2 linked regions of the Homo sapiens genome follow. The protein of the gene in region 2 interacts with the protein of the main gene of each other region in a pairwise test. Each region holds a gene or a part of one and is shown on either strand. Other genes may lie near its edges.

Region 1 (7,998 bases), on a different chromosome or scaffold from region 2:
AGAAGGTTAGAGTATCACATAATTTAAGATCATTTGAGAAGAAATACATTATTTAAAGAAAACGTAATGTCCTTGAAAATCATTTTAACCCCCAGAGCAACAAATAAAAGGGAAAAAAAAACAAAATTTTAATGACATTAATAAATGGGTCATAAATTCCAATGAATTATAATGCAAAAGCAACAAGTAATTCTGAACTTAAAGAACAGGACAGTCATTTTTGTCAAAGAAAATACATGCATGGAATGCAGATGCCACAAACAGGAGATGAAATAAAACAGATAAGGAGAAGGCTGTATCTAGGCTGAATGGCTGGCCAATGTTTTCCTCTCCGTCAGTATAAATAAAATGGATGGAAGAAAACACCCCTGGATACTATCAAATATGCCTTTCAATTATTTTATGCAAAAACATTATTTTCAATAGGTGTCATTAAAGAAAACATCATAGAAAAAAGTTTGCAACTCATGTTACAGAAATTAGGCTAAAGTCTTTAATATAAAAACAGCTCCTATAAATCAATAAGGAAAAGAACACTGGCCTACTTGAAAAAATAGACAAAGGTTATTTATAAACAAACAATGCTGATAAATGGTAAATGTGGTAGTTCTTAAACATAAGATAAAATGCTCAATCACAGAGAACTGCAAAATAAAATCATTTTGGGATAGTCTTTTTCACCTATCAGATTTGCAGGATCAAAAAGTTTCATAAAATATTCTTCGCAAGAGTGTGGCAAAGCAGGCAGTCATACACATTGCTGGTGGGAGTATAAATTGTTAGAACCCTAAGGAGCTGCATGCAATATGGTGACAGCCATCAAAATTACAAGTGCACATGCCCTCTGACCCAGCAATTCCACTTCTGGGAAGTTCTCTAAAATACTTGCATATATGCAAAATGATGCATGTACAGGGTCATTAGCTATAATGCTGAAATAGCAAAAGCTTGGAAACATTACTGCCTCAGTAGGAGACAGGTTAAGTAATTTGAGACATCCTTACAATAGAATTCTGAAGCAGCTGAAAAAGAACAAGGAAGCAATCACCAAGAAATACTAGGAAAAGGAAGAGCTCATATGTTATTCCACAATTTGCATAGAATATGGTGTATTTGCTGAAATGTGCACTATCTGGAAAGAGACACAGGAAACTAGCAACATTGCTGGCCTCCGTGAGGAAACTGGGCGGCCAGGGACTGGGATGAGAAAGAGATTTTCAAAATGCTTACCCTTTTGTACCTTTAAACTTTTGCACTGTGAGACTGTATTAGTTTTTTAAAGAAATAAAATTTAAAATTAAGAAATAAAATGTTAAGGCCGGGCGCAGTAGCTCACGCTTGTAATCCCAGCACTTTGGGAGGCCGAGGCGGACGGATCACGAGGTCAGGAGATCGAGACCATCCTGGCTAACACGGTGAAACCCCGTCTCTACTAAAAAAAATACAAAAAACTGGCCAGGCGTGGTGGCGGGCGCCTGTAGTCCCAGCTACTCGGGAGGCTGAGGCAGGAGAATGGCGTGAACCCGGGAGGCAGAGCTTGCAGCGAGCCGAGATCGCGCCACTGCACTCCAGCCTGGGCGACAGAGTGAGACTCCATCTCAAAAAAAAAAAAAAAAGAAAGAAAGAAAGAAAAGAAAAAGAAATAAAATGTTAAAAACATCGTAAACATTAGTGAGACACAGCCCTAAGACTATTAGACTATTGCCCAATCTAGCATAAGACAATATGTCCTTCTTATTTGAGTGCTCGCATTCACTCCATAATAAGATAGATTTGGAATAAACTCTATTCCAAACACAGATACCTAAGAGATCCAAAGTTAATTCACTTTCAGGGACCTCCGACAAGATACAGCTAGTTTTAAGAGAAAACACCAGGACTAGCAGAGATCTGAGGAAAATATTCATCTTGCTCAAGTTAACCTAGAAAATGACAGGCTGTCTATTTTGTGCAATTTATTTATTTCTCAACTTTAAGGTTCAGAAATCTCTGTCCTGTAACAAGGTATCTGTTACCGGAGTCTGATTATTCTGCACTGTGTAGGTCATGTTTGTTATGAGGACACTTAGCAAACAAAGAAGGTTTTTCTCCGCCCTCAATAGCGTGGTAACGGATGACAGGACACCACTTTCAACGAAGGAGACAGACATTTCCCTGGCCTTTCTGAAGAGCGCTTTTTGGAGAGACAAACCTGTTGCTCAGGGGCTGAGCATTCCCGTGTGTTCTCCCTGTACTTCACCTAAAAATATGCCTGTTTTCCACACTGTGCACACCCGGGGGTGGGTGCTGGGCATACTCCACCTGCTTGTTTGCCTCCCGTTTTCTCATCAGGGAGTAAACACAGTAAACCTAACGCTCCAGGGGAAGGAAAAAACAAATCATTCAGGGCCCATCTCAGGTGACTGATGAATGCGGCACCGTTTTGAACGGGTACCTAATCTGGTCCAGATATGCCTGCTGGGGCTGCAAGAACCAAGACACGTTCAAGCACGTTTGCTCCGGCAAGCTTGGGCGAGCAGGTCAAGACCTCAGAGTTTTAGAAAGCAGGGGCGAAGTTTTCAAGCACGATGGGAACACCTGTAGGTGCAGGTGCCTGAGGGTCGGCCGACCACCTCGCATCTGAGGCTGGATCCGCACACGGAGAACGACAACTGCTCACAGGGACGTGCGTCCGGAGGAAAGTTGCGGTGAGTGTCTACCTGTTCGAGACAGGTGGCCGAGAAAGTGGGGCAGGGCTGACAATTCTTCCTCCGCAGTGTCCCGCGGGCTCCCCCTGCACTGGGTCCCCGGGGCCCCGGGCGCCCCAAGGTCACCTGCCCTCCTCAGCGCCCCCACCTTGCCCAAGCTCTCACCAGAACAGCAGGTTGGCAGCGACGAAGCCGAGCAGGCTCCGCAGCGGCCTCTTCCAGCTCAGCAGCTCGTCGGCGCGGCAGCCCAGCCACAGCACCGGCTCCCCGAGCAGCCAGGTTACCGCGGCCGCCGCCCGGCCCGCGGCCTCCTCCACCTGCAACCCCGCGCCCTCCGCCGCCCCAGCTTCCTGCGCTTCCTCCTCCTGCTGCTGCCGCTCTGCGGGGGATGCCTGGGGCGGTGGCGGCGACGGCGGCGCCTGCTCCTCGGCGGCAGGAGCCGGGCATCCCTCCTCGGCGTGCTCCGGAGGCGCCGGGCTCGCCATCTTCAGCTGTGCTTCCAGACAGGGACGGGGCCGGGCGCGCGCGCGGGCGCGCCTGGGTGTGGGTGCCGCCGAGGGCGGGGCGGCGGTGGCGGCAGGTCCCGGAGCGGGGCGCGCACCGCGGGGCACAGGCGGCTGGGGGCCTTGTGACGCCACAGGCCACGGAGGGGGAGCCGCCCGGGAAAGTGGGTGCGGCCGAGTTCGCGCAGGGGCGGGGCCGGGCGCCGGGAGCTGGGCGGTGTCCCCGGGGGGCTCTGGGTTCCTGGAGGGCCTCTCCGGGACTCGAGGAAAACGACCTTTTCCCTTGCAGCGGCGGGAGAGGGCGAAGTGGAGGACTGCTGCTCGGTTCCGTATCCAAAAGAGACCCAAGGCTCCAGGCAAAATAGATTGGACATTTTCACTTTCTCAAGCCAGGGCCACCGGTCGCCCAACCAGCAGCCACTGAGGGTGGTATCGGGGCGCCCCTTCCCCTGGCAGCGTATTTCAGCCCCCAGAGACATCCCCCACCTCGGCCATCCCCAGCGCCTTTGCAGGGACAGCAGCACAACCATAGCAGAGGTCCTGGGCATCCTGGAAATAACGTGCTGGTATAAATGTTGGATTGAGAAAGGAAGAAAAAACATTTGGGGTCAATTTGGGGCCCTCTCGTTTGACACGGGAGGAAACACAAGGCCGCAGCGTTGGGGGAAGCTGCTTCCTTTCTCTCTCTTCTTTCTCTCTGTCTCAGGTGCTTCCTTTCTCTTCTCTGTCTCTCTCTCTCTCTCTGCCTCTCCCTCTCTCTCCCCCGTCTCTCCCCCTATCTTCCCCTCTCTCCTCCTATCTCCCCCTCTCTCCCCCTCCTTGTGGCTAGGTGATCTGGCTCAGAAGTGCACGTTGGCCCGCGCGTGCGGGGAGCTGAGAAGCAAGAGATTGGAACTTTGCACGTGTCAAGCAAGGTTTGGCCTGCTTTGAAGACAGTAATTTCAGAGCCACTCCGGTCTCTGCGTCACAAGCGGGCATCAGGGCAGTGGTGGGGCGGCAGGGGATCCTGAGACCTCCCATGCCCTCTCTTTGGCCCCGGTGCTTCTGGGTGAGTGTGGGGAGAGAGGAAAATAGTTGTTTATGCTTTTCACCATTTGCATTTTTAAATTTTTGTCTTCTTTAATCTTCCTGGTCTTACTTTTACTCTAGAATGACAGGTCCTTCCCCCCCATACTAAGGGTTCTGTCTGCGGATGCATCAGGGCATCTCATATCCCTTTACTGGCAACCAGCCTGCCTGCACAGGATGGAAGGGAGGGCAATTAAATTCCCTGCGTCAAGGGAGTCTCTAGGGGAATGTTCTGTAACGCTCCTCTGGGTGGCCATTGTAAACCTCTGTGTATACACACGTGGAATCCATTGATCTGTACATTCACTGCAGGTGTCTGCACTTTACTGCTTGTATGTTGTACTTCAAAGGAGTTATATTCCCAGAGCCCAGGCAAAGGCTTACTGAGCACCTACCGAGTACACAAAGCATTGCTAAGCTCTGTGGATGCAGCTTCCACCCACAGGAAGCTCCCAGTCTGATGAGGGCCCAGTTACAATTGTGATATCTGCCACAGCGAAGAAGCCTTCGCTAAGTGCTAAGAGATTCCTTACTTAAACTGTGCATCCAAAATTAGGGGAGGAGTGGAGGGATCAGGTTTCAAGAGCGTTTTGTAATAAATGGCCTCTGCCCTAAATTGTAGGGCCCCCATTAGTGTGGGGATTGGGGACAGGGGCAATAACTGCTGTTGGGAATTCAACAGGAGAGGAGGCATGGGGTTGCAGGTGGAGACGCACAGTTCCTTAAGTAACTCACCAAAGGGAATAGTGGACATTGAATGGTCTCTAGTAACAGGAGGCTTGGTTTTTAACTAAAGGTGATACAGAACATCTGGCATTTCCGACTCCCCTTCTTAGGAGTATCCTGACAACCCGATGGAAAGTGGCCTGGGTGTCAAGGAAAAAGCAACGTGGAAACAATTCAGGTTTCTTCCATATAAGAGAGACAATCTTTTCCCAGGTGTGGGTCCTCCCTCTTGGCAGTAGCGGAGAAGTTTTTGAAAGATAAATGATGCTTTTATTGTGTCATTTGGCCTTTGTTTGGCGCTTGATACAGCCCAGGGTTTGCTATTCTAAAATCTGTCACTAGACAGATGTGTGCTGCAGCCAGTGTGGAGAACATGGGGCAGGAGAGAGGAAGAACCAGGTGTCCCCGTTCCCCAGACCAGTGCTGATGTGCTACCAGAAATGGGTTTGCAAGATTAATCACCTTCCTCCTGCTTCCCTTGAATTCTAATTATTGTTGTCAGGATCTGTTGAAGTAGTAAAAGCTGCTGGCAACCAAGACACATAAAAGCTAAGCTCCAGTTGCTGTGTGTGGTTTCCAACACTTATTTATTATCTCTGTTTAATAATAAACCTCCTTCCCCACAGCTATGTGTTGTAAAGTCTATCCTTTCTCTCTCTCTCAAAATTACTATGGAGAAAATGCTATGCAACCTGTTTTGCATAAAAGGCTGGGCTAATTAACCTTTCCTTTTCACCTCCGACCTCTAATACTTACAAACTGTATGACAGAAGTAGACACTGGCATAGACATACAAATGGTGCTGCTGGGTGGGATTTTGTTGTTGTTTTGTTGTTTGTCTAATGATCTTTGTGATGCTTGAGTAATTTATTCAGGGCTAAGATTACAGAAACATAATGCTAACAATGGTTGAAATCAACCTTGTCCCCTAGTTTTAAGAACACGCCACATTCTTGAACTCCTGCAAGTAATCTTACTAAGATTCTCTTCTGAAATTTTATTGCTATATATTAGGAACAGAGTGATTAACACTAGTGAGCTAGATGATTTGACAATATATATCTGAGAAAAGGAAACTGGAAACGTGTCTGAGAAAAAAAAAAGTTCTAGCTACTGAATGAGAGTTTAGAAAATGAGACAGCTCCAGTAAAGAAAGTCCAAATGCACATAAGAACTCTCTAACAGAGGCCACTCACTTTTCTCATCTAAGAGTATGTGGAAAGCTTGTAATAGGAGAGGAAAAATTATGAATAATTAATTCCCACTATAGGAAGTCTCCTAGGGCAAAATCAAGCTAAGACTTAGAATGATGGGGAAAAGCCCCCTAGTCATAATATTTTGGGGAAATTTCTTTTCTCTACAATATTATATATTAGAATCTTACAGTAGCTCCATGATTCCTTAAACAAAAGGAGGCTCGTTGATATGGTTTGGCTCTGTGTCCCCACCCACATCTCACCTTGAATTGTAATAATCCCCACGTGTCAAGGGTGGGACCAGGTGTAGGTAATTGAATCATGGGTGCGGTTTCCCCCATGCTGTTCTCGTGATATTGAGTGCTTGCAAGATCTGATGGCTTTATAAGGGGGCTTCTCCCTTCACTCAGCACTCATTCTCTCTCCTGCCACCCTGTGAAGAGATGCCTTCCGCCGTGATTGTAAGTTTCCTGAGACCTTCCCAGCCATGCGGAACTGTGAGTCAATTAAACCTCTTTTCTTTATAAATTACCCACTCTCAAGTGTTTCCTCATAGCAGCATGAGAATGAACTAATACACTTGTGTATATGTTGTATCGTTTATTAGCCTGCAGATAGAATTTTTTTTGTGTTGGTACTTTTATTAAACTAATTCTACCCTCCTCCCCTTGCTATATCCTCTGCTCCTTATTCCTAAGTTTCCATAATTTTCTTCTCACTAAGAAAACCTGGATAGTTCACTCTAAGCACAGATAAATAAGAGTATCATACAGCATCAGCAGGCACAGAGCAATTGGAAAGGAAGGAAGATCATCTCCCGGGTCTCTAACCTGGCTTCCAAGGCCCAGCCCAGTGCCTGGCTCACAGAAGGAATTCACTATTTCTACTTATGTTGAATGTCTGTTGTGCATATACAGACGGAAATATTCAAACTAGCATAGTCTGTGTTTGACAAGCATTCCATAAGGGATGTGCTTACCAGAAAGATGGTGGCCAAGATGTTGGCCACCCAGATATCAGTTGGGGTATTGCTCCCTAATACCTAAAAGAAGTTTTTTTTTTAAGGCTTCAAAATGGTTAACTGAAAAGAACGGAGGTCACATGACAACATGAGTATATCCCCCAAGGAAGCCTACCTGTCTATCCCCAGGTACACACACAAACACACGCACACCTATGATCCACAGGGGTGACTGCAGGACATTAACTTCCAACCCCTTCCCAACAGGAATCTGAACCAGCAGACAAAGCACTGTCGGGTCCTTGCTGCAACCTCTTCCCCCCACCCCCTTTGATGGTCCTGGTTCTGCATCATTGTACTTGCGTATCATTCACTCATTATTTCATTGCTTCATTCACTAGTCATCAGCCATTCCTGAAAGACTGACTGTGGGCTTCTGGTAAGATGAACAGGACTGCTTATTTCTCTCATGGTGCTTAGAGTATAGACAATGGATAAAGACCCTGAAGAAGGCGCTGGGCAAAGGGAATGGGGAAGCATGGTGTGCACAGTCTGGAAGCAGGAGAGGAGCCAGCCTGGCCCTGGTTGGAAACCTGGAGGAGATCTAAGCTGGAGGATGGGGTGGGAGGAGCAGGAGGCTACTCACAGTGGGGCTCCTCCTGTATGATGCTAGAAGCTTCTGCTTTGTCCTGAGAGCAACAGGGAGCCATGGGTGGGCTTGCAGCAGGACACAGAGGGGCTAGCCTGTGTTTTAGAAAGGTATCTCCAGACCATGGAGGATATAAAGCCTGGCAGAGGGAAGGCACTCTCAGAGACTTTTCCCTTGTCATTCTCTAGAATGAGGGAGGAGAAGGAGC
Region 2 (7,268 bases):
ATTACAGGTGCGAGCCACCGCACCCAGCCGGAAAGATTTCTTAACCCACCGAAAACACCAAAATGAAAGTTTGGGTATCAAAAGATATCACTAAAACGGTGACGAGAACCCCACCCACCTGGAGAAGGTATCTGCAACACATACAATTCAACGAAGGATTTGTACGCAGAATACACAGAGGACAGATAAAAATAAAAATTTACAAAAATCACAGAAGAAAATGGGCAAAAAGATATGAACTGGCAATTTACATGAAAAGATACTCAACCACGATAGTAATTCGGAAACCATATTTTCAAACTGTATCCACCAGATGGCAACATTTAAAAGTAGGGCACACCAAACGCTGTCAGAAGGAGGCCACAGGAGCTTTTACAGCTCACCTTGGGAGTGAACGGGTGCCACCACTTTGAAAATAACATGGTAACATCTGGAGGGGCTGCAGACCTTGTGCCCCAGCAACTCTGCAAGTAGAGATGCTATACATATTCACAGGGAGAAATACACCCAAATGCAGAATGACTTATCATTACAAAAAGAATGGAGACAGCCCAAATGCCCAGCATCCAAGATGCAGATGAATGCAGAGTCGGCTGCAGGCCCCTCGAAGTTTCAAACACACAAGCAGCACTCCACAGACTCAGGGCAGACGATGACACTCCAGGAGCGATCAGCACCGAATTCATGGTGCTGGGCGTGGAGGGGGTCTAAGGGCCTGGACGCCACCAAGGCCACTCGATGTGCCCGCCATGGTGACGTGGAAGGACCTCCTTCCCGCCAGGCCCCATCTGTCCGTCTTCCTCCCCAGGGTGATGTGGGTCGGCCGAGATGCCGGGTGGTGGTGAGCCCTCTGCCAGTGCTACCCTTGGGGAGCAGGTTGGAAATGCCTTATTTTGAAAGCTAATGTGGGCATGTGGCCGTTGGTTGTAATATTCTGTATTCCTTGTTGTATATTTTTGCTACCACATGACACAATTTTTAAAGATGTAACTATTGGCCGCGTGCAGTGGCTCGTGCCTGTAATCCCAGCACTTTGGGAGGCCGAGGTGGGCAGATCACTTGAGGTCAGGAGTTAGTGGCCACCCTGGCTTGTAACATGTTGAAACCCTGTCTCTACTAAAAATACAAAAATTAGCTCAGCGTGGTGGCAGGCACCCATAATCCCAGCTACTTGGGAGGCTGAGGTAGGAGAATCACTTGAACCCGGGAAGCAGAGGTTGCAGTGAGTAGAGATTGCGCCACTGCACTCCAGCCTGGGCTACAGCGTGAGACTCCATCTCAAAAAAAAGAAAAGAAGAAAAGAAAAGAAAAGAAACTATCTTCAAGAAGTTGTTCTGTCAGCCAACCTGAGAGGGAGCCACGTGGCCCCAAGGGTGGCCAGAGCCTATGGGCGTGGCTGATGGCAGAAGGCAAAGCTGAGGATGGGGGTCTGACACAGCTGAACCCCTGAGAAGGCGGGGGGTTGCGGTCCACAGTGCCAGACACAGCACATGCCAGAGCCCAGGAGAAAGGGTGAGCTCCCCTCAAAGACAGAGAGGGGCACCTCTGGGACAGGTGGGGCAGGAAGTCATCAGAAACAAGAAGCATGAACTGGTCCTGTGGGGTGAGGTCACGCTGGCTGGAGTGGCCAGAGATGAGGGCACAGGCTCAAGGGTGGCAGGGAGGAAGCCAGAGGGGTTGGGATGACTGCTCAGAGCCAAAGAAGATGCCGAGAAGCTGGTGGTGGCAGGGTGGGGTCTGCGCTGGGGACATAGAGGCAACACCACGGGTGTCTGAGGCTCTGACTAGACCCAGGATGCACCCACAGGAAGTGGGCAGAGAAGATGGCCCGAGGGCAGGAGAGGGAAAGAGGGCTGGGGGATGGTGGCCATCCATGTGGGTATGTGGGTATGGCCAGCCGGCTGTGATGACTCCAGGAAAGGGAGACCATGAGCCCTGAGCCAGGGGCCCCAGGACAGAGGAGAGGGGAACAGAATCCATTCACTTGGTAAAAATGCATGCAGAAAACCCACTGGGCGCACCGGGCCACGCCCCGCAAGTCACTGCAGGCACAGAGGGCAGGGTGGCCCCGGAGGAACTCCCCTGTTGCTTTGGGGCTCTGGGACCATTTCAGGTTCCTGCCTCACCCTGGGGTGGGGGCATCAGCAGAAAAAGCCAAGTCCCTGTGGAAGGGGGCTGGGGGTGGCACCAAGGCAGATGACAAAGCGTGCCTCAGCTCGAGGAGTGTCCAGGAAAGACCAGGCATGGGGTGACGGTGAGGGCCAGACACAGGCCTGGCACAGGCACTCCCTGCCCAGCTGCTGGAGAGGCCCATGCTGCAGAGCATCGCACAGGCATCCGCCTGGAGCCCAGACGCCCTTCACCTCTGGGTCTGCCTTCACCTCAGGGGCCCGCCTTTACCTCGGGATCTGCCTTCACCTTGGGGATCCACCTTCACCTGGGGATCCACCTTCACCTCAGACATCTGCCTTCACCTCGGGATCCACATTCACCTCAGGGATCTGCCTTCACCTCAGGATCTGCCTTCACCTCGGGATCTGCCTTCACCTCTGGGTCCGCCTTCACCTCAAGATCCACCTTCACCTCAGGGATCAGCCTTCACCTCGAGATCCACCTTCACCTCAGGCAGGGATCAGCCTTCACCTCAGGGATCCGCCTTCACCTCGGGGATCCGCCTTCACCTTGGGATCTGCCTTCACCTCTGGGTCCGCCTTCACCTCAAGATCCACCTTCACCTCAGGGATCAGCCTTCACCTCGGGGATCTGCCTTCACCTCGGGGATCAGCCTTCACTCGGGGATCCGCCTTCACCTCGGGGATCCGCCTTCACCTCGGGGATCAGCCTTCACCTCGGGGATCCGCCTTCACCTCAAGGATCCACCTTCACCTCGGGGATCCGCCTTCACCTCGGGGATCCGCCTTCACCTCGGGGATCTGCCTTCACCTCAAGGATCCACTTGCTCCCAGTTAGACAAGTGGCCCGCCATGTGCACACCCAGCAGGGCCAGCCCAGAACAAAGCATCGGCATGGGCCACTTCCTGAAACACTGATCCTTCTTGAAGAGTTTGAGAAAAAAACCACAGCAGGTTTTTCTTAGAATTACAACCGATTGTCATAGAGGAGTGTCCTGGCCACCCCTGGAGAGTAAGGAGCCCCAGGTCCAATGACTGCAGGCACACTGGTTGCTCTGAGACCCCATGGGATAGGGCCAGAGCCCACCACACAGCCCCCAACTGCAAAGGGCGTGGGAGAGGCGTTTCCTGGGACCTCAGCCCTGAGTGCCGCTTGCAGAGGGCAGGGAAGGGGCAGGGGCTCAGGCATGGGAACTCAGGCACCTGGTGGAAGGCAGGGGTGAGAAGTGAGGCTAACATGGAAGCCCGCACCCCCAGCCCCGCCATCCACCCTCCGAGGGTGGTCACTGCCAGTGCCCCCAGGTGAGCAGCTGAATGGCTTTCTCCATAGCAGGAGTGAAGCCTTCAGTGAGCTGAAGAATGCAGTACCCCTCATTCTGATATGCAGGGGCAGCTTGGTAGCCAGCCCCACCCCTTCACCTAAGCCAGGGCCTGCCATGGACACCCCACCCCCCATGGACACCCCACCCCAGCTCTGGTCAGAACCACTCCGGGGTGAGCAGCAGCAGCCCTGCCGCTCCCGCCAATGGCCTCCCTAACACATGATGTGCCAACTAATGCCTTCCTCGGGCGTGAGAACAGAGTGTGAAAGGGAAGGACCAGAGCTGCCAGCAGAAAACAGGCCCTGCGGGAAGGACAGGCAAAGCATGGAACAGACGCGAAACAACCGAGCACAACCTCTGTCCACGCACCCGGGAGATTCAAGAAGATGCTCATTTTCAAAACAAGGGCAGAATGCTATGAGACAGAACATTTAGAAACGTGAAGATTTTAGAGATGAAAAATGTAAGAGATGAAGTACAAGATTCCAAAAACCCTAGAAAAGGCAGTCAAAGGACTTTAGAATATAAACAAGGAGACAGAATATACAAGAGAAAAGCAACCAAACAGACCAACCCATGAATTCAGGGTAAAAGAAAAAATGAAAAGGAGGAAATTACGAACAAATAGAAGTAGAGACCCTGACTTCAGTGTGAAGGGCCCACCGAGTGCCAATAAATGCGAACCCCATCCTTACACCCGTCGACATGAAGTTAGAACACCAAGGAAAAGACAGGATCCTAAAAGCTTCCAGGGAGAAAAGACGAGTTGCCAACAAAGCCTGCTCATAAGTGACCTGATGCAGAAAGCCATGGTGACCCTATCCTTAGAGTTCCCAGGAAAGCTACTTAGGAACAGAAGTACCCCAGACACTACCACCCAGAGCAAGGACACAGCAAAAACACTCTCACACACCAAAGACTCATGCACCCTTTCAAGGAAGTCACACAAGGATGTGCTCCAGCAAAACAAGACAGGAAACCAAGAAACAAGCAGCTCTAGGGTCCAAGAAACAGAAACTCCAATCCAGGGGACATGGCAAGCAGCTGCCAGAGGCCACTTCTGGAGGTGCGATAAAAGGGAAAAAACTCATTCAAGAAAATAAAAAGGCTGGGCGCGGTGGCTCATACCTAAAATCCCAGCACTTTGTGGGGCCGAGGCAGGAGGATTGCTTAAGCCCAGGAATTCAAGACTTGCCTGGGCAACATGGCAAAACCCCGTCTACAAAAAATTAGCCAGGTGTGGTGATACATGCCCATAGTCCCAGCTATTCAGGAGGCTGAGATAGGAGGATCACTTGAACCCAGGAGGTTGAGGCTGTGGTGAGCTGTGACTGCACCACTGCACTCCAACCTGGGTGACAGAGTGAGACCCTGTCTCTAAAATGAAATAAAATAAAGATAACCAAGAGCTGGAGAAAATAAAACACCAACCAAGAACATCTTGCCTAAGTACAGAGCTGACGCAAAGGGTGTGGGGCCGTAAGCGTGCTCCTCTGGTCTGCGCCTAGCCCACTGCAGCCACTACTTGTCCTAGAGCTGCAGCCCTCCCAGGCCCCAAGGACCTGCACCCATGGTGGGGCCCTGGCCCCAGAAGCAGGAGAGTGGGGACCAGATGACACCAAGCAACTGAGTACAGTCCCACCCCAGCCCCACAGCAGCTCCTCAGGAGCCACACCGACCCATGACCTTGAGCATTGACTGCCCAGCCCTGTCCTGCACCATCCTGGCTTGAGCTGATGACAGATGGAGAAGGAAACTGAGGCCCACCCTCAGGTGGGCCTTTCTGGCAGGGCTGAGGTGGGGGCAGGAACCCCTTGAGGGCATTCCTGGCACTACCAGCCTCAGGGAAGGGGCCCTGCAGGAGCAGTCCGGGGCCATGCCTGTCCCTAGAGCTGCATTTCAGGAGCCCCACGGGAGGCCCAGAGGGAAGGGGGTGCCTGTCATTCCTAAGCCAGGCTCAGGAATCCATAGGTTCTGAACAAGAGACACTGAGACCCAAAGACACCCCAACCCCTGAGAGGGTGGCCAAAGCTCAACCTGGACTCTACCAGAAAATGCGGTACCTGGGCTAGAACAACCGGCTCAGCCATGGAAGAGCACTGACTGAGTCTTCACTCTGTGTGAGGCACCGTGCTGGCCCCCGTGGGGGTGGGAGAAGTGGGGGGTAATGGGGGTGGAGGAGAAAGTGGAGGGATGAGCAGAAAGCACTAAAGGAGCTACCATCCTCGGAGTCCCAGGTCCTCACTTTACAAGCCACATGGGCTTCTCAGGAGCCTCAGTCTCCATACCTGGAAAATGGGAACACCACCACCTGGCTCAGTGGGGTCCGAGCCAAGCGGTGCTGTTCTCATTGTTCAGGTGTGGAGTGGCATGGGATAAAGGGAAGCACATGAGGTGCACAGTGCAGGCTATGACCAGTGTTCTCTGTCTTCTTCCCCACCCCTGGAAACCTATGGTTGTGGAGGGGGTGCCAATCTGAGGGGTAGGGGTGACAGCAGGCATCATGGCAGAGGCAGCATTTGAGGGGGACCTAAAACCTAATGTGGAGGTTGAGTAGAAAGTATTGAGAAGAAACCCAGGCAAGAACAAAGACAGGGACAAGGGATGCAGAGTGTGTGTGTGTGTGTGTGTCTATCTGCATGCATGCATGTGTGTATGCATGCGTGCATAAGCATGTGTGTATGTGTGTTTGTATGTGAATGTATGTGTGGGTATGTGAGTGTGCATGAGCATGCATGTGTGTGTATGAGTGTCTGTGTGTGTGAATGTATGCATGGGTGGGTGTGCGTGCATGTGTGTGTCAGTGTGTGTGCAATGTGTGTGTATGTGTATATGCATGTGGATCTGTGTGTGTTCGAGTGGATGCATGTGACTATGAGTGTGTGTGGCCGGGTGACTGCTCTGGACCCCTCCAGGGCACTGTGGGGAGGGGTGAGGAATAAGCACGAGGATGCCTGGAGAGCCAGGCACTGGCCTGCCCTCCCTATACCCCAAGGCGTCCTGAAATCTGGCAGGGATGGCAAGCAGGAGGGACCCCCAAAGGTCATCTGAATCCCCAGGCTCTGTGGCAGCCAGGGCTGGGCCTGCCCAGACCACAAGGCCTGGGATTAGGAGATTAAATCCAGGGTGAGGAGGCTTTAGAGAGGCAGCAGCCCCTCCTACTCATTCCGGCAACCCCAGCCTCTGAGTCCCACATCCAAGTCCCATATCCACACATCCGGATCAATCTCTACAATGCACTAGGCCTGCAGGAGGCCAAAGCTGGCAGGATGGGCTGGCAAGGAGCAGGAGAGGTCAGGAGGCTCAGTCTCCACCTGCTGCTGACCTTGACTGTGCCCTCTGCCCCACAGCACCCCCAACTGCAGCACGTGGGCCAAGCCCAGCCAGCTGTTCCCTGGGTTCTTGAGGCCCTGGGGGTGGGGGCACTGGGGTGGCGAGAGGCCAGCCAGGCTGAGGGTGGGGATCCCAGTGGGGCTCAGGAGCTAAAGAGCAAGCTGGCTTCGTCAGGTGGGGCCACTGTGCCCCTGCCTCTGCCCAGGTGCCATGCCAAAGGACTGGGATGCAAAGCTCTGGGATCCCAAACCCTCCTGTAGCAGGGATGGGCCTATGGCCGGAGGCCACCACCTAAGGGGCAGAAGCCGGCAAGGACGCAGGCCCAACGCTGCCTGGCTGTGTCCCTGGGTACCCTGGCCACCCATGGACAGGTTCGGGGCAGGGTGTGGCCCAGCCCCCCATGGTTCTCAGAGACGCTCCTGGGCATGGAGTGGGTGATGGGCAGTGGGAGGTGACACCTTGAGTCCCTTTGGCCACCCAT

What was found.
Region 1: the proteins of KIF1A (region 2) and RETREG1 interact in a two-hybrid assay, tested with the Homo sapiens proteins (one study listed by IntAct).

What each region holds. Positions count from the first base shown.
Region 1 is NC_000005.10:16,613,800-16,621,797, forward strand, and holds the start of RETREG1 (reticulophagy regulator 1), read right to left. Parts: upstream 3,199-7,998; 5' UTR 3,173-3,198; coding exon 2,853-3,172; intron 2,688-2,852; exon of another isoform or gene 2,127-2,687; intron 1-2,126. UniProt on the Homo sapiens protein: Endoplasmic reticulum (ER)-anchored autophagy regulator which mediates ER delivery into lysosomes through sequestration into autophagosomes.
Region 2 is NC_000002.12:240,810,085-240,817,352, forward strand, and holds part of KIF1A (kinesin-like protein KIF1A), read right to left. Parts: intron 1-7,268.